Linked DNA regions of Homo sapiens. The protein of the gene in region 3 purifies or fractionates together with the protein of the main gene of each other region. This does not show direct contact. Each region holds a gene or a part of one and is shown on either strand. Other genes may lie near its edges.

Region 1 (3,500 bases), on a different chromosome or scaffold from region 3:
CCTAAGATATATACTTTCTAGCTGTGTATTAATTTTACCTAAGGATCCCATTATCATATTTGGCTGCACTGCAACAGTGGCTATGACAAAACTTTAGCAAGTACTGAAATGGTGAAGACTAAATGAAACTTACCTCCAGGAGCTAAGGAACCAGGGCCAGGTCCTGTGACAGCAGCTGGCATTTGCCCTGGTGCTGGAACTCCACCCTGCATAGAAGCTTGCATCAGAGGAGGTGCGCCATTGACATGCATTCCACCCTGACCAAGCAAAAAAAACAGAGTATGTATATGCCTCTGTGGATACTCAATATACTAAGTCTACGACCTTAAAAGTCCTCTTCAAATGAACAGCCCCAAATACACTACTAAACATCCTTTTTGTATGGCATGTCTTATGCAGCATTAGATTTGTCACACACTTTAAACTCCACAGAAGCAATATACGTCATGAGCCTGGTTATATGGAACACGGTTAAGATGGAACATATTCTCAATGTAGAGATTGACAAGTCTTATCTGTGTGGCAAGGCAGCACATAACACCTACTGTTAACTTCATGATTGGGGCTGCCAATAAGAGTAAAAAAAAAAAAAAAAAAAAGCCCTAAACCCAAGAAACATAAAAGGAGACTGGGACTCTTTTAAAAAAAACAACTGCTGGTAGTCCACATTTTTAAAATTAAATTTTTTTTTTAATTTAACCAATCTTTTCTCACTCCTGTCCTTAGATATAATTCTGGTTTTGGGGGAATGTGAAATATATTTTTTTAAATGCTACATTAAAACTCGTTGAGAAAAAGAGAATGTCATCTTTTCATCTGTGCATTCCCCAAAAAACTGAGTAGTCCCTTGAATTAGAAACAGCTCAATAAATAAAGAATAAAAGCCAAGTTATATAAAAAAAATCACATATACGTTTAAGGAACACAAAACTCTACAAAAGAAAAGGAAGAGCTGTATAGGAAAGTAGTTAAGAGAAAACTGGCTGTGAGGTCAGATAAAACCAGGTTCAGAAATAGATCTGCCACTTATAATTGTGTCAATTTTTGGACCAGCTAACCTCTCTGGGCCTTAGCTTTTTTTTTCTATCTCTGAAAATGTATTTATTTATTTAGAGCAGGGGTTGGCAAACTATGACCCATGGGCCAAATCGGGCTCACTGCCTGGTTTTATAAACAAACTTTTAACGGAACACAACCACACACACTTGTTCACTTATTGCCTATGGCTGATTTCATACTACCATGGCAGAGTAGCTGTGGCAGATCCTGTGACTTGCAAAGCCAAAAATATTTACTGTCTGATCATTTACAGAAAAATGTTTGCTGGTCCCTGCCCTGTACCTCTGCCAACCTGAGAGATGAAAAATGGTAGCTTATTGTAGTTTCTATTTACATTATCTTATAACATTACATATATAAATGATAATTTATTACATTATCTTATTTTGAAGTTGAATAAATTTTTATATATTTATATTTCTCCTTTTGTGAAATATTTATGTCTATTTCCCATTTTTCTACTGGGTTATTGGAAATTTTCTTACTAATTTATAGGAGGCCTTTTAAAATTTATTATGAAAAATTACAGATATACAAATCATATAGAAAATAAAATAGCCACCCAGCTTAGGAAATAAATAAGTAAATAAAATAAACCAATGGCCTGTACGGTCTTCCCCAATTGCATCCTGTGCTCTCTTCTCCTTTGATGACCACTAAGACGTCTTCTTAATGTTTCAAAATTTTATATGAATCATTACATACTCAATATATTATTTTGCAACTCATTCCACATATTTTGGGGATTTATGCAGAAACATATATCCTACATTTCGGGAATGCATCCATATTCACTTAGTTTCATGTCCGTATGTCACTGTTTTGGAGTTGTGTTGATATTATGTATCCTAGTTCATCTTAACTGCTGTATGGAATTATGTTTTTCAAAGTCATTCATGTTGATACGTGTAGTTTATTTAACTGTTGTACAGTATTTCACTGGATGAATGTACCACACATTTTCTCCATTCTTCCACTGACGTACATTTAGGACATTTCCAATTTTTCACTCTAAGGCAATAAACATTCTTGTGAATGACTATGGGCTCTTTATTAGTCTGTTTTCCATCACATGTGTGGTAAATACTTTTTCTCAATTTGTCATGTCTTTGATACTTATTTTTTTCTTTATATAGAAATTTTTTAGTTTTCAAATGTATCAATTTTTTATGGCTTTAAGGTTTTGTGTCATGCTTTGAAAGCAAGCTTTACTTTTTTCATCAGTAAGAATGGAGATAATAAGAGTGCCAACCTCATACAATTGCTTTGAGGATTAAATGAGATAATGCATATGGAATAACGAAGTGCCAACCACAGTGCCAGGCATGCACATACACACAAAGTTAGCTTATAAGAAAAGGGCATACGGGAAGGATCTCTTTGTTTTACAAACTTGGAATCGAATCTATATTCATTCAGATGTCATGTGCTCTGCAACCTGGAAATTGCTTTTATGCCTGGAAATTGAAATTATCATCTCTGGTTCCTGACCATTCTTCTTTCAATATATTCTCCTAAAAAGAAAATGACATTCTAAGACAGATACAAAAAAATGTTAAGGGATAAAGCCCTACCAAAGACTGGGCCTGAGGGGCCTGAGGATTCTGCTGGTTCATTGACACATTGGATCCTGAGCCAGGCCCAGCACCATGGACTGGCTGAGGGTTGCCTGCAATCAGCGTTGGGATATTTGTCTGGCGATGCAGAATTTTCTAAAAAGTGAAAAGACAAACCTATGAGCTGTCTGTTTAACAAAGCAATCAGGTAGTTCCTATCCCATTCAAGGTTTACCCGACCATTTCCATAAAAGAACCAGAAGCACTCACCAGGGCAATTTCCGGATCCACAATTCTCATCACTACCTGTGCTTGCAGCAAAGCATAAGCCAGTTGAGGGTTCTGAAGTAACATGTTCCGTGCCTCCTGGGGACTATTCTGGACACAGAGCTGAGAAGATAAGCAGATTCAGGTTTAATACTTATGACTTAGAAACTGATAGTGATTTAGAGCCATTCCCCTCTGAGAAATGTAATATTCAAGAGGCTCTTTATCATTAGTTTTTGCATGGCACAAAAAAACCTTGGTCATGGCAGGCAAGAGAAGAAAGAGGCATTTCAAATACTGTGATATTATCATTTAGGAAAAAAGCCAAATTTTAATATCTACATCTGACATCTATGGGCCACAAAACTCCAGCTGGATTGTTTGGATAGCTGTGTTTGTGTACAAAAATAGAAAGCTCTTTGTACAAAATGTAAAATATACTGTGTACATACAGAATATTGAAGGTGCAAGAAATGGTGGTCTACAGACAATTTCTATTTGAGCTCAGGGAACTAATTCAAGTAACTCCTTGAAAACCTGATGTGATTTGCTTTATTCATAACCTAATGCCTCCTCCCACCTTCATTTGTTTCATCAGCTCAAACATCTGCTCTGGTG
Region 2 (3,500 bases), on a different chromosome or scaffold from region 3:
TCCTATGTACGAGTAAGTTGCTGGAGAAACGAGTAGTTCTATAAACCACAAGGCACTGTGCCTGTGGAAGCCTCTCAAAAACAGTCAATGGATAAAAATAAGCTGTTTTTGATAGGGATGTCAAAAGCTGTTTTACAGAAAGGGATATTTATTCTTGTGACACGATTTTAAAAAGGTAAGTAGGTATGCCAAAAAAATTCCTAGCTTTCTAGAGTAATGAGTTATGGACCTGTCAACTATGAATGTAATGTTCCTAAACCTTGTTTAATCTGCAATACTAAATATTTAACCTTTAATTGTTCACATTAGATCATCATTATAAACATCAGATATCCTACATCATAATATATTGATGTTCCCAAGAACACCTAAGAATAATAAAACTGTCTGTTCTTACTCATTGTAGCCTTTAAAAAAAATCCCAATAATTTTTTAGTATAAGCAATTACTTTTTACAGGTTTTCCAAATTTTCCGTATCATTTCTTGCTGGACCAATAGGATCTCAAGTACATTCTCTCCCTGACTTCCTCATTTTGCTGCTTTTAACAAGCTGTGGACCGAGAACTGAGATAATGCAACTTGTAAGAATGTGTCCAAGAGAAAGCAAACAGTTTCTCAGTCCAACTCAGATGATCCTGCCAATGAGTAAGATGTGGGAGCTTTCTAGTAGGTGAATGTCATACAATGTGAGGGAAGAATCTCCACAACTCTTTCAGCTTATTTCCTGGTTCTTGTCTACTTTCCAGACATGAGTTGTAAAATTAGTGACCTCTTAATAAAAGAAGTATTATAATAATTATTTTTTTAAGTTTTCTTTTTTGAAATTTCATACAATTTTATGAATATATTTGCAATATATTTATCTAGCTGTTAAGTCAAGAGTTGCTTCATTACATCTTACTTCTTGGTGATTTTGTTAGTTGAGGTTAAAGTGAAACATATTTTGGCCTCCACACAATTGAAAAAAAAATTGGATATTAACATGTATGTCACTAAATCTTAACTTGAATAAATTTAATTTAATCCTATTTAAAATGCCAAATCTTATAGGATACCACAAATTATCTATACCCAGAAAATAACTTTTATAATAAAAATTGAAATACCATGTATACAAAAGGCTTAATACAGAAAAGAAAAAAATCAGAAGGAATCTGTGTTATCATCATGATTTCTATTTTCACCAGGGCCTAGATCATTTCATAATACTGGGTTTGAACATATAGAAGCACACTAACTCTTGCAGGATACTAATACACCAGTTAATTTGATTTGTTTGTTTAAAATAACCACAGCAAGGGAAAAAATGGGAAGATCTCTACCGAGTACATACCTCAAAACTGACAGGCATATTTCGCTTCAGAGCAATTTCAAACACTAAGCTGATCTCAGACTTATTTGCATCTTTGTCATCATCCACATCCTTTCCTGATTCACCATTCTAAATCACAAAAAATAGGATAACACTGAATCTTGACATTATAACAAACTTTACTTTTATTCTACAGTCAAGATGGCCTATTTAAATTACAAGAAGAAACAACAAACTATATAGACTGTATCTGCTGCATTCTCCTGTAACCACAGCGGTCAAGGGCTTTGCTGCCAGGCTTTTTGTTACTCGATTTTTAGCTTGTTTTCCTTGAAGGAAAAGCATTTAATGCAGACTTTGGAAATCTTTTACTCAACCATACACTAATTTGAGTTTAGCCTACATCCCTAAACCTGGCACTCTTGTTTTAGAGTTCTCTACCCACCCAACCCCCAACACCCAGGAATTCCCCCACTGGTGTTCTAATGTGATCTATGAGGATGAAGTTACAGAAAGAGTACAGGATGCAAACCAGGAGCATCCTAATTGGAGATCTATGTCTGGCACAGGCATTGGTTTACTTTATTCACTTATTTAACACATACTTCTGGAAGGCCTCATATATGCTGAACTTACTATAACTATTAGAAAGAGACAGTATTCCTTGCTGTCAAGAACTGGGAGAGAATGATCTAGTGGGAAAACAGATCAAGAAATAGATAGGAGCTCTCATGAAAGAGTACAAGCAGAAAAACACCTAAGTCTGCCATTAAGATAAATATCAAAGGAGAAAGAAACAATTGGTTTGGGGAAAGGAAAACTGTAGAGGTTGAACTGTAGGGTAAGTAAGAAGCTCACTATGCTGCCGGGCATGGTGGCTCACGCCTGTAATCCCAGCATTTTAGGAGGCCGAGGCAGGCAAATCACGAGGTCAAGAGATCGAGAACATCCTGGTTAACACAGTGAAACCCCATCTCTGCTAAAAATACAAAAAATTAGCTGGGCGTGGTAGCATGAGCCTATGGTCCCAGCTACTCAAGAGGCTGAGGCAGGAGAATCGCTTGAACCCGGGAGGCAGAGGTTGCAGTGAGCTGAGATCCTGCCACTGCATTCCAGCCTGGGCAACAGAGCGAGGCTCCATCTCAAAAAAAAAAGGAAGCTCACTATGCTATGTATAGGACATGCCTGAGCTAGAGATACTATTTTGAAGTCAATCAAGAAAGTAGCTGAAGCCATGAGAATGAGTGAGATTACTTAAGAACAGCCTCAATGTCATTTGTAAAACAAAAGAGGACTGAAAAATCCATAAAATCTCTTCCACTTTAAATCCTTGATTCTAGATTCACACAATGTAATCTATATTCAATAAACATAGTATGAAATATAAGCCAAATCAATGTTATTTCTCATCCTCATATACATCCCCAAATCCCCAGTTGCCTGGGAAGTGAACTCAAGGGAAGAACCAAAGCTCTGAAAGGTAGTCACCCTGCAGGAACACATGAAGCAAGACTGTCAGGTCTTCACTCTAGTATTCTTCCCTATCAGAACAGATTATTTATTTTAATTATAAAATGCTCTGATTTGTTTCACTGGGAAAGTAGAAAGAACAGACTGTCACATGCAGCAGCACCACACCTGAGGAGATCTTTCTGGAATAGGTTCATTCTGCAGTGCTTGGAGGGCTTTCATTGCAGCATTGTGTCTAGCAGCTTGTCGAGTCTTTCCTTCCCCAAAAAATTCATTATTTCCTACAGTGAGCTGAACATAAAAGATCTTAGGCACTGGGCAATGATACCTAAAATAAGAAAATAAAAACATTAAAGTTAGCTTAATAAAACCACTCTATAATCATTCATAAGATTTGTTTAAAATGATACCAATTATATAATGTGCTATACTCTTAATAAAACTTTAACCTCAAAAACATACTTTTTTGATAAAATGTGAGTCAATACATCTATAGATAATAGCTTATACTGATCTCCATGAAAAACATATATAGAATACAACATTAAACATAAAACAATACAGTAAAAATTATTTAATTATATCACAGGATACTTCCTGGTGAGAAGTTTTCGGTCAGATTTTGACAGAAGTAAGAGAACAGTCTGATGAAGCTACAACAGAGGCTGGGTCAGGCAAGACTGTTCAGGCGACAACATGTAGATTACCGTGCTTTTT
Region 3 (3,500 bases):
ACTCAGTAAAATTCAACTCCAGTTGGGGTGGAGTCAGGGTGGTTTATTGGACGCCTGTGTGCCTGAGATTGGGCAACAGCACCTTTTCACCCCTGTAAGGGCGTTAGCTTAGCTTCAGTATCTCCAGAGCACGTACCTTGCCGTGCAAGCACCTCTCTCTCTGTGGCTCTCTGCCAGGGCTGATACACCTTTGGGTGGTTTTCAGGTGCAGGTGATCCCCTGGGTATTAGCCGACAGTAACTTTGTCCGGAGCCCATCTCAGAGGCTTGACCCCAGCAGGACGGTGTTTGTCGGTGCTCTGCATGGAATGCTAAATGCTGAGGCCCTGGCAGCCATCTTGAACGACCTATTTGGTGGAGTGGTGTATGCCGGGATTGACACAGATAAGCACAAGTATCCCATTGGTAAGTGTCCCACTTCTGTGTGCGAAAGCTTGGTTGGCCCCTGGGAGTAGACCAAGATTGTGATACTTCCCCATGGGAGTGAGGAGAGAGGCCTGACCCAGGTCTGCAGATCAGCATATACCAGCACCATAATATCTTTTTCTAGACAAGTCACGAGTACTGGCCCTTCTGTATCTAGCCCTCTACCCACCATCTCCCACGCAGTGGGAGAAAAAGCTATTGGAGACTACAGGAGGTGATAAGAAGTGAGAGTGAGGTAGGAACTTTGTTGGAAGCTCAGAGTTCACAGCGAAACCAGTTTGGAACAGACAACAGGTACTATTTCATGAAAAGGCTGCAATTCTCTGAACTTGCCTGGAGTTTTTTATTAAAAGTTCTTGAAAAGCTCTGGCATTGTCTAAGGTCAGAGACCAGGTCAGGCTGGAGGAGGACTTTCTGAGTGAGTCAGGCAACAGAGTGTGGCCTGTGCTTTCCTAACTCAGAAGTCTGTGGGCCTAACCACTAGGTTTTGATCAGCTCCTCTGAGAAAGGAGGTCAATTCGCCAGTCCTGGCAAAATGTCAATGATGAGGTATGGAGGTGGAGCAGAGCCTGACCTCTGTGATTAACATGTGGCTAACCCACCTCCCCAAATGCTTAGTCTTCACACCCACACTGAATCTGGTCAGGAAGGAGCACCATGTACTCACCAATACTGTGCAGCAGATTGAGAACAGGGACTTCAGAAGCCCCAGGAGCGGAGGAGGAACTTGGCAGGATGGGGCTTCTTCCAGCTCTCTTAATAGGTCTCCAGAGTGCCTAAGGGCTAGGAGAGGTTCAGTTCAACTGCTGGGCTTACCCTTCAGACAAGTGTTCTATCTGCATCTTGGCTTCCACTCTGAATCCTTTAACCTTAACCTATGCTCTACCTGCACTGAAGGAGTCCCTTATCTTTCCTTCCCATCTTGATCTGCAAATTCTTCCCCCATTCCTGAATGGTTCACGCTAACATGATCTCCACTGTCAAATATGGTACGAATATGGTAGCTACCAGCTAAATGTGGCCCCATTGAGTTTTGGAAACACAGCTGTTGTCACATTTGGAAATAATATTATTAACATATAGGGTTAAATAAAATTTTTTTTTTGAGATGGAGTCTCACTCTGTTGCCGTGCTGGAGTGCAGTGGTGCTATCTCAGCTCACTGCAACCTCTGCCTCCTGGGTTCAAGTGATTCTCCTGCCTCAGCCTCCTGAGTAGCTGGGACTACAGGTGTGCGCCACCACGCTCAGCTAATTTTTGTATTTTTAGTAGAGACGGGGTTTCACCATGTTAGCCAGGATGGTCTCCATCTCTTGACCTCATGATCCGCCCACCTTGGCCTCCCAAAGCACTGGGTTTACAGGTGTGAGCCACCGTGCCCGGCCAATAAAATATATTATTAAAATTAATGTCACCACTGTTTTAAAATTTCAGTGTGACTACTAGAAAATTTAAAGTTACATAAGGGCTGACCATGATGGCTTATACCTATAATCCTGGCACTTTGGGAGGCCGAGGTGGGGCAGATCGTTTGAGTCCAGGAGTTCAAGACCAGCCTGGACAATATGGTGAAACCCTGTCTCTACAAAAAAATACAAAAATTAGCCAGGCATGGTGGCTCATGCTTGTAGTCCCAGCTACTTGGGAGGCTGAGGCAGGAGATTGTTTGAGCCTGGGATGCAGAGGTTGCAGTGAGCTGAGATCACGCCATTACACTCCAGCCTGAGTGACAGAGGGAGACCCTGTCTCAAAAAATAAATAAAGTTACATAGTAGCTCACATTATATTTCTGTCGGACAGCACTAGTATCGTAAAGGGTTTCCTGCATTTTAAAAGAGTAGCATTAGGGCAGGCTCGGTGGCTCACGCCTGTAATCCCAGCACTTTGGGAGGCTGAGGCGGGCGGGTCACAAGGTCAGGAGATCAAGACCATGCTGGCTAATGGTGAAACCCGATCTCTACTAAAAATACAAAAAATTAGCTGGGTGTGGTGGCAGATGCCTGTAGTCCCAGCTACTCGGGAGGCTGAGGCAGGAGAATGGCGTGAAACCGGGAGGCAGAGCTTGCAGTGAGCAGAGATTGCGCCACTGCACACCAGCCTGGGCGAAAGAGCGAGACTCCATCTCAAAAAAAAAAAAAAAAAAAAAAAAAGTAGCATTTGGGAGAATTTGGTTAGAAGGGAAGCTTGTGTCTGTTGTCCTAGGTTCTGGTCGTGTGACTTTCAATAACCAACGGAGTTACCTGAAAGCAGTCAGCGCTGCTTTTGTGGAGATCAAAACCACCAAGTTCACAAAGAAGGTGAGTTGGCTGGTTTATGCCCTTACTCTGGGGTATATGAGAGGGGTTTGGGCAGTTACTACCCAGGGCAGGCCTGAGACCTGAAGCTGTTTGTGCTGGGTGTGTTTAGGGAAGTGAGCCAAATTCCTGAGAATTAACATTGAGGTTAGGGTTTGGGAGTGGGCTTGGTCTTTGTACGCCCAGGAGGAAGGGAACTGGGACTGTTGAGCCTCTTCAGTGTGTAGGGTGCCTTCCCTCACTGTGGTATTTCTTTGGCATTGCTCAGTAGCCTGACTTCCTATTTTCCAACCTTTTGGGAATCCTCCGAACACTTGCCTATACTGCTAATTGATAGAGGGCTGAGGTACAGTTTGCCTAGAAGACCAGGCATTAAGGTGTGTGGTTGCCTGAATCCCAGAGGCATCCAGCCTGACTGTGCATGGTGTATGAGTCTGTCCTCTAGAACTCCTTTCTGTACTTCAGGCCCATAATTCTCTCCAAGCCTCCTTTAAAACAGGCAAATATCCTGCATTCCAATATCCCGCATTCCTGTGTGTGGCCAATAATGTGCCCTTCTTCTATCGCCTATCGAGCCTCCTGGTAAGAAGAGCCACTTCATCATCTTATTTTGCCTTTGTGCAGGTTCAGATTGACCCCTACCTAGAAGATTCTCTGTGTCATATCTGCAGTTCTCAGCCTGGTCCTTTCTTCTGTCGAGATCAGGTGGGTCCGATGTCTATGAAGTCCCTGCCCTCTATTAAAAATTGTTGGCTGGGCGCGGTGGTTCACACCTGTAATCC
Region 4 (4,099 bases), on a different chromosome or scaffold from region 3:
TGGTGTGCAATGACGTGATCTTGGCTCACTGCAACCTCTGCCTCCTGGGTTCAAGCAATTCTCCTGCCTTAGCATCCCGAGTAGCTGGGATTACAGGCGTCTGCCACCACGCCCAGCTAATTTTTTTTTTTTTTTTTCTGAGACGGAGTCTTGCTCTGTCACCCAGGCTGGAGTGCAATGGTGCGATCTCGGCTCACTGCAACCTCTGCCTCCCAGGTTCAAGCAATTCCTGTATCTCAGCCTCCCGAGTAGCTGGAATTACAGGCACGCGCCACCACACCCAGCTAATTTTTGGGTTTTTTGGGTTTTTTTTTTAAATGGAGTCTCGCTGTGTCACCCAGGCTGCAGTGCAGTGGTGCGATTTCAGCTCACTGCAACCTCAGCCTCCCGGGTTCATACGATTCTCTTACCTCAGCCTCCTGAGTAGCTGGGATTACAGGCATGTGCCACCATGCCCAGCTAATTTTTGTATTTTTAGTAAAGACGGAGTTTCACCATGTTGGCCAGGCTGGTCTCGAACTCCTGACCTTAGGTGATCCACCTGCCTCAGCCTCCAAAAATGCCGGCATTACAGACGTGAGCCACCGCACCTGGCCTTTTTTGGTATTTTTAGTAGAGATGGTGTTTCACCATGTTGGCCGGGATGGTCTCGATCTCCTGACCTCACGATCCACCCGCCTCAGCCTCCCAAAGTGCTGGGATTACAGGAGTGAGTCACCATGCCCGGCCCAATTTTTATATTTTTAGCAGAGATGGGATTTAACCATGTTGGCCAGGCTGGTCTTGAACTCCTGACCTCAGGTGATCTGCCTGCCTCAGCCTCCCAAAGTGCTGGGATTACAGGCATGAGCCACCGCACCCGGCTAATTTTTTTATTTTTTGTAGAGACAGGGTCTCTACAAAACTCTACCTAAACTTCTGGGCTCAAGCAATCCTCCCATCTCAGCGTCCCAAAGTGCTAGGATTACAGGCATGAGCCACTGCAGCTAGCCACCAGACCTGTATTCTAATGCTCTATTTCTTTTAGTTGGTATTCCAATTCGTTTCCAAATCTCTGGTTATCTTTCATAGTTAAAGGGCAGTCAATATGTATTTCTGGAGAATTTACAATGTGAAAGCCACCAATTTAAAACAACATAGTGAAACATAAGGATGGATAAAGATTTGGTCACTTTCCTCAAGAACTTTTGGGAAATATGTGGGATACATACAGGAAAAATGAACTAATTTTATATAGACATGCATAACAAATGTCAATCAAATGATGAAGATAGCCACTGAAACTAGATAACGGTACATTCGGGTTGTCAGGAAAGACATAAACTAGGCCTTGACCGCTGGACAGGATTGGGATGCAAAAGACAAGAATTTCAAAAGAAGCCTTTTTTAAAATACCTGCTTGGTTTTCTGCTTACACTCTAGGTAACTTCAGTAGTCAAATTCACAGAGCGAAAGTAGAATGGTAGTTGCCGGGAGTGGAAGGAGAGAGGAATGAGAAGTGAGTGTTTAATGGGCACAGAGTTTCAGTCTGGGACAATGAAAAGTTCTGGAGATGGATGATGGTGACAGCTGCAAAACGATGTAAATATACTTAATGTCACAGAGCTATATACTTAAAAATGGTTAAAATGATAAACGTTATGTGTATTTTAGCACAATAAAAGTGTTAGCTGAAATGGCAAGTTTACCTTAGTGATAAGGTCAGAGAGGTAGATTCTGCTTTCTAAGGCTATACAAAATAAGTCTCATTCTTTTGTCGAATGTCAGCCTTCGAATACTGCCACCTTAGCCTCTTCAGCTGATTTCTTTTTTCCAGGTCAAATGTCTCCAGTAATAATTTTACCTGGGCATTTTTTCAGCACCTTGTGATCCTCTGAGTGTTTCAGGATGTTTTTTCTTTTCCTTTTTTTTTTTTTTTTTTTTTGGAGGGCAGGGGGCTGGGAGGAGGAAAGACTACAACTCCTCTACAGGCTCCTTGAGAGCAGAGACCATTTCTTTACTTATTTAGTTTAACCTCCTTGGTACTCAGCAAAGAGTATGGTACAAATTAGGTTCAATAAACACCTGCGGATTGAATGAAAATACTGACAGTAAAGGCTATTAATAATGCAACCCACACGATCTCCATCACTGACAAATCCTGGCAAGTCTCAGTGACACTTTTCCTTAAGCCTCTACAGACTAGTTATTGAGGTCTGTAAACCTAAGATCGCTTTCCCCAGGATTCTTGCACAGGGGACGGGGTGACAGAAGCAACACATATTCAAAGCAATCATTTTTTCTTAATCATCTTCTAAGAGGGCCAATGAAAACGAAATGGCAAGCGTCACTGCTTCAGGAGAGAAAGAACAGATTCCATGGTGATGGGAGCTTGAGTCTGCCCATCTGAGATTCAGGCGCCAACGGGAAGGGCTGAGGGGCCACGCGGAGGAGAGGCCCAAAGCCCAGGGCCATCTTTCTCCAGGTCGGGAGGGTGGAGGTGGAAACGGTCCCTGAGCGACCCCAGAGGGCCGAGGGCGGCGCGAAGGGAGGCCCTCGGATGCTCCGGCCCGGTTCTGACAGGCCATCATCAGGGACAGACAGTTCCCCTCCCCGCCCAAGCCGGCGCAGCCCAAAAGGAGGCGCGGCCCATGCTCAGCGCACCTTTTGCCTCTCCTTCTTCTGGCTCTCGGACTCCTCCAAGGGTGCTTCCAGCTCCATAATGTCCCCCCAGAGGAGTTTCCCAGGCATTACTGGCCACCGCCGCCTCCCTCCGGGCACAGTGGCCACAACCACCTACGGGCAGCGACAGCGTGAAAGGAAGCGGGGGCAAGGCGGCCGCCCGGCCTTGGCCATGCGTCACTTCCGGGACACGCACCGCACGGCGGGGAAAAATAATCCCGGATACTCTCGGTTTAAGACCTTCCATTGCGCCGCAACCTCTCAACCAATGAGTGTGAGAGATATCAACGGGCCCGCCCTTGTTCTGAAGTGATTGGTTACTAGAGTAAAACCCTGGCCAATCTCCATAAAGGAAGCATGCACTGATTAACATAAATAGTTCGGTTTATCTTCCCCTCCCCCACTCCGAACGGGTCTCCTCGGCCTCGCAGAGCCTTTTGGGGGCTTCCCAGTACGCACTGCTAGGGCTGGGAAGCCCTTCAACGGCGGTAGACAGGGTCCGGCGCGCGCTGGGCGGGTGCGTGGGCAGGCCCATGCCGAGGCCAGTGGGCAACGCCGCGCGCCGCCTCGCCATTTGCAGCCGGAAGCTGAAGCCCTCCATCCCGCCCATTGCGGGGGAGATGTTAACGACCAACAGCTTCGCGCGAGGCCACAGGCCTGGCGTCGGTGGAGAGGGGCTTCGCGCAGTTTGGGGTGGGCCAGATGGGCCGGAGGTGTAGCCAGGAACGGACAGATGTCCGTCTCTTAAGTCTTAGGTTTTAATCGTGAAGCTGATCCCTGGTTCATTGTGATCCTTCTCACGCTGTCCATTTGACATAAGAAACCCGAGAAAGGAATGTACTTGTCTGAAGTCCCACAGTCTGTTAGTGGCACAGTCAGGACTAGAGAATTTAGCTCCTGAAGCCGAGATCAATGCTCTTTCTGCCACATCAGCCTGAGAACTTTGAGTTTTGCAGTGTTTTGGGGAAGATGCTCCCGTGAAACAATGAACAGGAAAAACCTGAAGAAGCCTCACATTTTCTGCTAGCGAGAAAAGCCAAAATGTCTTCCACAGATTATCTATTTGCAATGAATAAAAAAGGATTTAATTTTAGTGATGGAGATTAACTGCCCGTGAATCACCACCTTACACAAAACTGAAACCTTTGACAATACAAAGGGTAACTTCCTTAGTGTTTCTATACCTTTGCTTACTATCACCGAGGCTAGTTGGCTTTTCACAGCCATTTCTTCATCTCTTCATGATCCTTGCGACCCAGCTACTCTACCCAATGGAGACACAGGGCTACTCTCACAAACCACTTGATAACGTCTAGCACACCAGCCTTAAAACCTAAGCATCAAACTGTGTCCTAGCAAAATTACAAATTGTTACATGTCGTGGAGTTTGGGAATTGGTCCTGAATAGCTGGAACCACAAATGTTAAATCTGTGATTG
Region 5 (3,500 bases), on a different chromosome or scaffold from region 3:
CTCTCCTAAGCCCAGGGGTGAAAACTGGCTTCAGGACTCCAGAGGAGCAGGCTGAGAAATCTCATTTGCATGAACCTGCCCCAAGCCTAGGAAGATGGGCGTGTCTCGCACAGGCAGACAGATAATTACCCAAAGCCAACACCAGCAAGGGGAATAATACCGCTAACCAGCTCACTTCCTAATAGCCCTATCGGTGACAATCTACTGCATTGTCTTATGAAAACCTGCTGCCTGTTCCTAGGCAACCCGATCAACGGAAATCTCAGGTTTATACAATTTTCATTTAGGGAACATAAAGGTTAACTGACTGTAATGGGAGTGTTTTAAACAAACCCACCTACTCTTCCTCTCACTGAACAGGGCTGACAGCTCTGTTTAATTCTGCTCTGTCTTTGCTGCTGGTGGTTTGGGCAGCAATGACTGTCTGAGTGCCAACCACCTGCTGGGTCAACGGTGAGTGTTCCCCAAGGCCAGGGGCCATGGCGCATACACTCTCCAGGGGACCCTGGCCTGTCCTGGGCATCTGAATGACAGGGGAAGGCAGCAGGTAACAGTTAACAGCAGGGAACCTGGCCTGCCTGCCCTGAAGGCCTCTTGAAAGACTTCTCAGGACCAGGAAGCCTGTCCAGTCCCCTCCACCCCCGAGACTCAGCCACTTAATTCAATGACGCAGATGCGGAGGAACTCAACACGCCAGGCAAGTGCTAGGCTTTGGGGACCCAAAGATAAATAAGGAAAGCCTCCACCTCTCTGAGAGCTCTCATTGTATTGAAAAAGAAGAGGCTCTGACTGTCTTGTTCTCCTAAGATGAATGCAAGTACTCACACATCAACCTGCCCCTCGCTGCTTCTGCACTTGTTAGCCTCTCGAGCGTCTTGAGTTAGCCCACATCGGGTCACCTTCCCCTGCTGTCCTCCCCCAGGCCCTGCATAAGCCAGAGAGCTTGGCATGAACAACCCGGGTGACAGTCAGAACCCAAAAAGGGTAAAAAGTGGTCTATCTTTTCGGTTCTAGTCATGTACTTAGGCTATCTGGTCACATGCTCTGTTCCAGGTATCTACTGCTGAGCAACAAACTGCCCCCAAACTTAGTGGCTTTGAGCAACAATTTAATCATCCTTCCTCAGGGTTCTGTGGGGTGACCGGCTCAGCTGGGCTCTTGCTGGTGGTCTCATGGCGCTGTGGTCAGGTGGTGACTGGGGCTGAGGCCAGAGGAGGCCTCAACGAGGCTGGAGGCCCAAGATGGCTCCTCGCTCACATGGCAGGCAGCCACACTGGTTTGGCTGGGCCTGCTGATGGGGCGTCCACCATGGCTTCTCCATGGCGCCTGGTCTTGTCACAATATGGTGGCTAAGTCCCAAGAGGAAGTGTCCCAAGCACAAGCATTCCAACAGACTCAGGCAGAAGCTGCAAGGCTTCTTCTAACCTAGCCTTGGGACTCACAGTGTTCCCTCCCACACATTCTACTGGTGACACTGGGCCAGCCTAGAGTCCGTGTGGGAGGGGGCTCTAGGGATAATCTTTGGAGACCAACAACCACATGTGGTCGGTGAAGGGCAGTGAGCTGACAGGGCAGCAGGAGGCACTCCTCACACTCTGGCTTTTGGCTGGCTGGGTCCTTGGAGCAGTGGGCACCTAGGGCTGCTCTCACCACAGGGCAGAGGGCAGGGCACGGGGGCTCCCTTCCCACTGTAGCCCCACACAGGCCTGCCTGGCTCCCCATGGTCCTCTAAAACAAAACAAATGTGGTGCTCATGGGGACCAGGCCTCTTGCTGCAGGTATTTTGGCCCCACCTCCTAAGACTTCCCCTTGAGGAAGGCCCACCTCCCAGTCTCAGTCCTTGAGTCTCCTGCACCAACGGCTTCTCACAGTGGCTGCTGCTACTGCTGCTACTGTTTCAAATAGCAACTGACCAGAGCAGTCTATTCAAGGGGCAAGAAATGCAGTGAGATGTTCCATCTGACTGAGCACTTGTAAGAAGCCTCAGAGGCCACTGATGACCAACTGCTTATACCAGAAGGACCAGGTCTCTGTTTTCAAGGTGCACAGCTGGCAATGCCACAAAACACTCCCAATACCAGGGATGTGCCAACACCCCCCACCCCAACAAAATTGATGGGATTTGTTCTGAAATTTTCTTCTCCCAATATGCTGCTTTGTTCGACAAACTGGCCTTAGAAGAGAGGGTGTGGCTTCCTCATAGTCCCCATGGTAATGGGTTCAGAATAATGACCTAGCCCCTGGACACCTAGCCCCTGGACACCTAGGGCAGCAGCATGTTCCTTTAGAGAACAAAACGAAGGCCTGATGGGAGTGTGGCCCCTGTGGTCGCTAACACTCTTGTCCTTGCTGCCCACTGGGTTGGGTGCCTCCTCCCATCAGCATCCACAGCAACTCAGCAAGGAGGTTTGCAGTTTCTAACTCCTTACTCAGGAATCATTTCAAATTTACAGAAAAGTTGCAAGGAGAGTATCCTTTACCAGAATTCACCTACTGCTAACATTTTGTTACTTTTGCCTTATCATTTGCACACACTCCTGAGCCCTCTATATGTAGAATTTTTTTTTTTTTTAGACGGAGTCTTGCTGTGTCGCTCAGGCTGGAGTGCAGTGGCGTGACCTCAGCTCACTGCAACCTCCGCCTCCCGGGTTCAAGTGATTCTCCTGCCTCAGTCTCCCGAGTAGCTGGGACTATAGGTGCACGCCACCACGCCCTGCTAATTTTTGTATTTTTAGTAGAGACAGGGGTTTCACCACATTGGCCAGGCTGGTCTCGAACTCCTGACCTCGTGATCTTCCCGCCTCAGCCTCCCGAAGTGCTGGGATTACAGACGTGAGCCACTGCACCTGGCCAGGATTTTTTTTTCCATTTGAGAGTAAGTTGGTATGCGTTTCATAAACATGAGGGCATTTTCTTACGTAATCATAGCACAGTTATCAGTCTCAGTACGTTTAACATTAATGCAATACTTTACCTTCCATACGCTTGTTTTGCCAGCGGACCCGATAATGACCTTTATAGCTATATATCCATCCCACGGAGCAGGAAACTGAGGCTCAGACTCAGACATCTAACCTGTGGTCCAGACCCAGTACCTGTGTGCAGGGCTGGGATGTTAATCCCGATCTGCCTATAGCCCCAGCCCAAGCCAGGAGAGTGGGTGCTGTGGCCCTGCGTTACACCCTCTCCCTAGCGGGGAATGCTTAGCACTGGCTTTCAGAGGAGGTGCTGGAGCTTCTGCAAGAACAGCTTCCCTGCAGCTACTATGAGTGGCCACTCCTCCCCAGTGGATCCGAAGCCCTTGCAAAGGTAAGCTCACTGCCCTGGCATCTTTGGGGATGGTGGCTGGCAGTCTGAGGAGTATGCCAAGCTTTGGGAAGTAAAGGGCTTTTGTTTTTCCCTGGTCTCTGTACAAAAGAACCCAGTCAGCACGCGGCCTTGGGGCCCAGAGGGAAATCCAAGCCCTGGACCTGTGGCCTTGATGTACCATCCAGGACAAG
Region 6 (3,500 bases), on a different chromosome or scaffold from region 3:
GTGTATCATCCTTGCCAGTCCCCAAATCATGACAAGCCTAAGCAAGGTGAAAGCACTGCTCATTCCCCTCTGTAATCACCTCAAACGTGCAGCCTTTTTCCCTGCCAAAGTATTAGGAATAACAATGCAGCCGCACCTGGCATGCCTGCTGCCAGACCTTGTCCAAATGCAAGGGCAGAATTCACTGCTGCAGCTGCCACAAGGGGATCCGTTTGCTGTCCCTGCTGGTTCTGGTTTGGGGTCAAAGGACGTTGGCTGGCTCCTCCACGGAGAACCTGGGAAAGGAAGACAGAAATAACTCAACCACTTTCTTTTCATTGGAGAAGACCTACCCTATGCTCAGGTTGGGTCAACTTTTAAAACTTAATTGTAAATTGTTTCCCTATAATGGTTTTTATATGTCACAGCTGTTAGCGTATAAATTCAATTAATAACATTTCATAGAGTGGAATTTCATTCTACCATTCTTACTTTAAACACATTATCTCTATAAGCAGCAAAAAGCACACAAAAGTGATGATTCATTCATTCAAACATTTTATCTCATCTGCCTCATAAAGTTCTTGTGACAATTAAGTTAAAAGATGAATTTGGAATATCTGGCATCAGCAAGTGGTAGTGTTATCAAATATTTAATGCCTACCATGTGGCAAATGGGCAAGTGAGACAGAGCAATGAACAAGACCGACAAAGCCCCTGTCCTCATGGAGCTTTTATTTTAACGAATGAGACAGACAATAAACCATACTATATAATGTCAGTGCTCTGACAAAAAGTGGGTGAAGAAAAAAAAAGAGTGTAACAGGCCAGGCGTGGTGGCTCACGCCTGTAATCCTAGCACTTTGGGAGGCCGAGGCAGGTGGATTATCAGAGGTCAGGAGTTCGAGACCAGCCTGGCCAACATGGCAAAACCCCGTCTCTACTAAAACTACAAAAATTAGCCAGGCGTGGCAGCAGGTGCCTATAATCCCAGCTACGAGAGAGGATGAGGCAGGAGAATCACTTGAACCTGGGAGGCGGAGGTTGCAGTGAGCTGAGATCGAGACACTTCGCTCCAGCCTGGGAAAAAGAGCAAAACTCCATTTCAAAACACACACACAAAAAAAAAAAAAAAAAAAAGAAAAAAAAAGAGTATTAATGGGGGTTGGGAGGGGTTCCAGACAAGATGAACAGGGGTAATTTACCCACACATTTAAAGTCAACTGAGTCTCACATGCACACAAAAGATGGAATGAGAATATTTCCTCTTTAACACTAATATATTTATCAAGGTCCACATGGCCCCAAATGAGTTCACCAGATTCGATTTGGTAGGGCTCTCACCTGACTATTTCTATTTCCCTCTCAGAAATTCCACAAACATACGCATTAGTCAAGTTCAGTGCAGAATACCAGTTATGCCACTCTGATAAAGGATCTACTTTTTTTTTTTTGGTGGGCGGCGGGTGGCGCGGAGTGCAGGGAAGAGACAGGGCCATGCTCTGCTGCTCAGGCTGGAGTGTAGTGTGGCACAGTCTCAGCTCACTGTAACCCCTGCATCCCAGGCTGAAGAGATGCTCCCACCTCTCCTGAGTAGCTGGTACTACAGGTATGCACCACCACACCTGGCTAATTTTTCTATTTTTTGTAGAGACAGGGTCTCACCATGTTGTTCAGGCTAATCTCTAACTCCTGGGCACAAGCAATCCACCTGCCTTGGCCTGCCAAAGTGTTGGGATTACAAGTGTGAAGCCACTGAGCCCAGTCAAGGATCTACTTTTTATTAATGAAACACAGACATCAAAATGCTAGCAATCATTATTATTCTGAATGATGTGAAGAATCTATCTCACAAGATCTACACACTCCAGCAAGCAAAAATGCAAAACCCACAAACCAAGGCTAAAATTACTACAGTTCCTAACAATGTGTTTTGTCATATTGTCAAGTGTACAGTTCTTATCAGATCACTTTCAATTTCACTGTGTTATTTATAAAAGTTAGACATATGGTCAAGAAAATGGGTACAAATTATTCTTGGTACCAGTGGTAAAAAAAAAATGTAAAAAGAGAAGCAACACTAATAACCAATTAAATATTTGTTAAGTGAGTATAAGGTGACCAACACTGTCCACACTGGCAAGAAGGGATGTGTGGACACTTAATTTGCCCAATCTTTTACTTCTATATCAGTAATAAGTAAGAATTAACAAATGATCTTGCAGATTTGCTGGAAATATCTCAAATAATGTGTTTAAGCCACACTGCCTGATACCCAGGAGATCATCAATAACCAATAGCAAATCACTATTATCAAGATATTATATAATTTGTTTCTGACCTAAAGAACCTAACCAACTTTGTAAGAGAAAGTGTGTTTCAAACTACGTAGATAGAAGAGTCGGGGGGCTGTACAGGTGAGTTTTACCAAATACTTAGAATTTACATACCCAATAACTCAAAAGAGATCTCACTCTAGGATAAGTAAATAGCAAGCATTTTTGCCAAATACTTAGAATTTACATACCCAATAACTCAGAAGAGATCTCACTCTAGGATAAGTAAATAGCAAGCACAGAAATATGGCAAATGCTAATAGTTCAAAATTGCTGAAGATTTTAAAAAACAATGAAAGCATTGCTTTCACAGAATATAAAGAAGTAGGTTTATGTTTGATTAGGTGTTCTGTGAAAGGGCAGGTGTGGTAGAGTGGACAAGGTACCTAAAGAGGTAGTCTAAGACTATTGATGAGTCTTGTAATAAGGAAGGAAAACAGTGTTAGCTTTTTGTCCACTCTCTAGAAATCTGTCCAGTACCCCTAACTACAAATAAAAGTCCTTCAGTTATCTGCCAAAATTCATATATTTTCATTTCATCAATAGCTGTCAAATCCATGATTTTATGGAAACAAAATATACAGTTTCACAAGTAACATTTTAAAGTCTAATAAATCACAAAATGACTGAATTTATAAAAACTATCCTAGAACAGTCAGCTTGACTAGAACGCAACATATACTTTCTGATAAAATACAAGGGCCCAAAAGGCCAACAGCAAAGTTTAAAAAGAACCTCTCATTTTAATTACTATGACAAGGCAGTTTACCAAAAAAATCATATTTTCCTCAAATACTTAAAATCAGAAACTGGCACCCAAAAAAAAGGAACTAAAACAATGGCTGCTAATTAAAAACTAATGCTAAAAACTTCTTAGTAGGGTTTGACAGAACCTGTAGGGAATGACAGAAAACTGAAAAGTTAATGATTATTATGTCCATTTTATAACAAAAATATATGCATTTAGAGAAGCCATCCAACTTGCCCTAGTTGTAAGCTAGTTAACGGCAGAAGAAACACAAGATCTCAGATTTTCTTTAAGTCAAGACATCACAATATGGTCAGAAGAAAAGTTGTCAAGACAGAGGCTTATGTTCAAATCTTAACAACTTTGTATTTGTGTGACCCTGGGCACACAAATTGTATTTCCTCAATCGATTTCCTCTCAATTATGAAATTCTATTT
Region 7 (2,978 bases), on a different chromosome or scaffold from region 3:
ATTTCTTAGCTCAGAAAGGTCTAGGGAGGAGCACTGAGCGCGGGCCCTCTGATGCCGAGCCGCTGGCGGTAGCTGGTTTCTCAATGTGGGATCTTAGCTGCACTCAGTGAACTTGGAGTGGATCCCTCCCACCCCCTACTGCTAAGGTGACACCTGTTCTGAATGCCGGTTTGCTTAAATTGTTGCCTGCCCTCACTCTGAGAGAAAACAAAACTCTCCCATTTGTCCTGAGGGTCCGGGATTCCTCATGGAGCCTACTGGAGTCACCTCAGGACCAGGAGGTCCTGGTGGTGTTAGCCGCAGCCACTCTTGGCTGGAATCCCAGTGGCTCTGGGTGAGGTTTTCGGCCAGTTCAGCTGGAAGAGGGACAGGAAGGCGTGGACGAGGTATTTTTAAATCTACTTCCTAATCTCAACTTCAAAGCATGTTAAAGGGAGTTCTTTAGGGAGCTGCTGAGTGTTGGTACACACATACACACATATATATATACACCCACACACTTTAGGTTAGTCCCTTTAATAAATGGAATTATAAACTTGTCCCATAAATACCTCCACCTCAAAATAATTGCTGCACAAGCAGCGTGTTACCTCAGTGGTTAGTAAAGTCCTGTGGTCCTAATAAAACTATCCTTGGGGAACCTCGGAGTAAACTGATTTGCAGATAAGATACAATGCTAATGGTTGCAATCTGATTGCCTTAGGAGAAAACTGAAGTCATTCTCCAGCAAACATCTCCCAAGGCCAGCTGAACCCTCTTGATCTTTAGGGAATTCAGATCTTTGGGGGGGTGGGGGGCAGTAGCATCAGGCTGTGGGCCTCTGCTTGGCCAACTTCCGACCACACAAAAAGTTTTTCTATGGACCTTGTAAATCATCAACCCCTCCTTGGTCTTTTCCAGTTCTCAGACTCACTAGAATCAGAAACACCTCTATCCAAAAATCTACAACCCTGGACACAAAGAAGCCGAGCTGGAGGGGTTGGGGGACGACGAGAGAACCCTGTGTTAGGTAAAAGCTGGAACTCATCTCTTTTCCGAGCCACCTGGTCCTCAGTTTCCCGTATTATGAATGTTACAAAGATGAGCTGGCTCTTAGTCCTGGCCGAGGACACCACCTGTCCTGGCAACTACAGGTGCCATTTCCTTGCCGCTTCCGAAAGCCCAAGTTATCTTTAAGGGATGTCAGCTTTGCAAAACCCGCTTCAGTAGAAACAAGAGTTAGCACAACCATTAACTGCTTGAACACCCTCGTTGGACTTGTTCCTAAAATCATAACCGAAGGCAGACGGCTTCCTTCGTGGACTGCCAGAGGCCCGGCCTCTCCCTGCCCTTGAGCTCAGGTGAGGAACAGGTACCGGAGAGCAAGCGCAAGGGAAAGGAGGGTGCTCCGGGCAGGAATGGCCCTTGGCAGACAGAGCGTGGGCCCTTGGATTCCTGTTCCTGAAGCGGGATGGAACTGCCGGCCGAACTGGAGCTCAACTCGCAAGCTTCAGTCCCGGCCAAGTAGGCCCTTGCTCTCAAATGCGCCCGTATCTCCTCTCTCTGGGACCCTCTCGGTTTCCAGAACAGCTGACGTTTGCGGCTCCTGCAGCGTGCAAGCGCGGGTCCCGATGCGAGAAGGGCCAGTCTGGGGAGGGGTCATTTTAGAGACTAGACCGCCCACTAATCAGCCACTGTTCACACCTGGGCGAGTGGGGCCCAAGCTCGAATTCCTAGTGCAGCAAACGGTCTAGCGTGCGTGCGTGCGTGTGGGGTGGGTGGGGGGAGGGCCTCAAACTTCACCTCTGGACTGGCCTTGGAGGGCTGGATGTGGGCGGGGGAGGAAGAGCCGCAGGGGTCCAGGAAAGTCGCGTTTCTGGATTGACAGAAACCTGAAGAATGGCCAGGCCCAGAGTCCACTGCCAAGGACATGTTTGTAATCAATGCCTCTGTTCGCGGGCTAATCTTTCATCGCAAAGCCGCGATGGAGGGGAAAGATACGGAAGGGCTGGGGTTGGGGGCTGGCTTCTGCGAGCATCCTTGGGGCCGGCCAATATGGAATACACAAAAGGGAGAAACGGATTCTTAAAAATCCCAGTCAACAGGTTCGGATTTTTCGGCAGACGTGCAAAGTTCAGATACAAAGATCACTGTAACTGTCAGAGAGGTAAGGACCTCTGATACAATGGATTTAAGAGGTTTTTTACTCCAACAGTCAGGGCAAGGGAAAGAGAAAACCGTGCTTCTCTTGGAATCTCTTCCAACAAGGGGGTTTCCTCCAGTCCCCTCCAGATGCGTTGACCGCGCTGGGAAACCGAGTCCAGGGCCAGGATTTGTTTTTCCAAAGCCGCGCGACCCCAGCAGGGCTTCAGATCCGAGTTCCCAGTTGCTCTTCAGTCTCCCCCGCGTTCTTCCAAACGCTATCAGGAGCCACGCAGGTTACCGCACCACCGGTCATTTCCCTGTTTCTTCTAAAAGTTCTCCAGCCAAATTTCAGCAATTTATTTAAAAAGGCACCAGGTCACCGCGACCTTCGGGCGGCTCCTCAGGCCTCATGGGGTAGTTTGGTCAGGATCTGCGCGCCCCTCGACGTGATCAGAACCGTGTGCTCGAACTGCGCCGACCTGTAACACAGCACCCAGCCGTCAGAACGCGCACGCAAGCTCCGGCCGGGCCACAAGCGCGCCGTCGGACCAATCTTCCTTTCCCATACAATTTAAAAGCAACAGAGCAGAAAGCAAACACCTTTGATTGTCTAGGGAGACCACAGTCCATGCATCCTCCAGGACTTTAAATTCAGGGGATCCCTCCGTGATGATTGGCTCTGTAAGAGGAAAAATATTTACTGCAGTGACCTCATCAGATTCTTGTTAAACATTGTTTCCGGCTGATTATTAAAAAAGAGAAGTTTCTCCTCCCTCCCCTCAAGTGCTTCCCCCACAGGCTCATGTTGTCATCTTGCAAGGGTTGATAATTGATGTTGCTTACATAGTATACTA

The links.
Region 1: the proteins of CPEB1 (region 3) and CSTF2 purify together in Homo sapiens (affinity purification with mass spectrometry; 2 studies listed by BioGRID and IntAct, with this or other methods). This does not show direct contact.
Region 2: the proteins of CPEB1 (region 3) and STAU2 purify together in Homo sapiens (affinity purification with mass spectrometry; one large-scale study listed by BioGRID and IntAct). This does not show direct contact.
Region 4: the proteins of CPEB1 (region 3) and DDX50 purify together in Homo sapiens (affinity purification with mass spectrometry; one large-scale study listed by BioGRID and IntAct). This does not show direct contact.
Region 5: the proteins of CPEB1 (region 3) and MSI2 purify together in Homo sapiens (affinity purification with mass spectrometry; one large-scale study listed by BioGRID and IntAct). This does not show direct contact.
Region 6: the proteins of CPEB1 (region 3) and PUM1 purify together in Homo sapiens (affinity purification with mass spectrometry; one large-scale study listed by BioGRID and IntAct). This does not show direct contact.
Region 7: the proteins of CPEB1 (region 3) and METAP1D purify together in Homo sapiens (affinity purification with mass spectrometry; 2 studies listed by BioGRID and IntAct, with this or other methods). This does not show direct contact.

The regions. Positions count from the first base shown.
Region 1 is NC_000023.11:100,823,391-100,826,890, reverse strand, and holds part of CSTF2 (cleavage stimulation factor subunit 2), read right to left. Parts: coding exon 3,463-3,500; intron 3,006-3,462; coding exon 2,886-3,005; intron 2,772-2,885; coding exon 2,634-2,771; intron 258-2,633; coding exon 134-257; intron 1-133. UniProt on the Homo sapiens protein: One of the multiple factors required for polyadenylation and 3'-end cleavage of mammalian pre-mRNAs. This subunit is directly involved in the binding to pre-mRNAs.
Region 2 is NC_000008.11:73,614,341-73,617,840, forward strand, and holds part of STAU2 (double-stranded RNA-binding protein Staufen homolog 2), read right to left. Parts: intron 3,112-3,500; coding exon 2,952-3,111; intron 1,443-2,951; coding exon 1,335-1,442; intron 1-1,334. UniProt on the Homo sapiens protein: RNA-binding protein required for the microtubule-dependent transport of neuronal RNA from the cell body to the dendrite.
Region 3 is NC_000015.10:82,546,364-82,549,863, reverse strand, and holds part of CPEB1 (cytoplasmic polyadenylation element-binding protein 1), read left to right. Parts: intron 1-205; coding exon 206-404; intron 405-2,626; coding exon 2,627-2,721; intron 2,722-3,342; coding exon 3,343-3,423; intron 3,424-3,500.
Region 4 is NC_000010.11:68,900,016-68,904,114, reverse strand, and holds the start of DDX50 (ATP-dependent RNA helicase DDX50), read right to left. Parts: upstream 2,801-4,099; 5' UTR 2,731-2,800; coding exon 2,644-2,730; intron 2,060-2,643; exon of another isoform or gene 1,689-2,059; intron 1-1,688. UniProt on the Homo sapiens protein: ATP-dependent RNA helicase that may play a role in various aspects of RNA metabolism including pre-mRNA splicing or ribosomal RNA production.
Region 5 is NC_000017.11:57,609,523-57,613,022, reverse strand, and holds part of MSI2 (RNA-binding protein Musashi homolog 2), read right to left. Parts: intron 1-3,500.
Region 6 is NC_000001.11:30,968,218-30,971,717, forward strand, and holds part of PUM1 (pumilio homolog 1), read right to left. Parts: intron 276-3,500; coding exon 137-275; intron 21-136; exon of another isoform or gene 1-20. UniProt on the Homo sapiens protein: Sequence-specific RNA-binding protein that acts as a post-transcriptional repressor by binding the 3'-UTR of mRNA targets.
Region 7 is NC_000002.12:172,079,953-172,082,930, reverse strand, and holds the end of METAP1D (methionine aminopeptidase 1D, mitochondrial isoform 1 precursor), read right to left. Parts: intron 2,804-2,978; coding exon 2,725-2,803; intron 2,604-2,724; coding exon 2,525-2,603; 3' UTR 501-2,524; downstream 1-500. UniProt on the Homo sapiens protein: Removes the N-terminal methionine from nascent proteins. The N-terminal methionine is often cleaved when the second residue in the primary sequence is small and uncharged (Met-Ala-, Cys, Gly, Pro, Ser, Thr, or Val).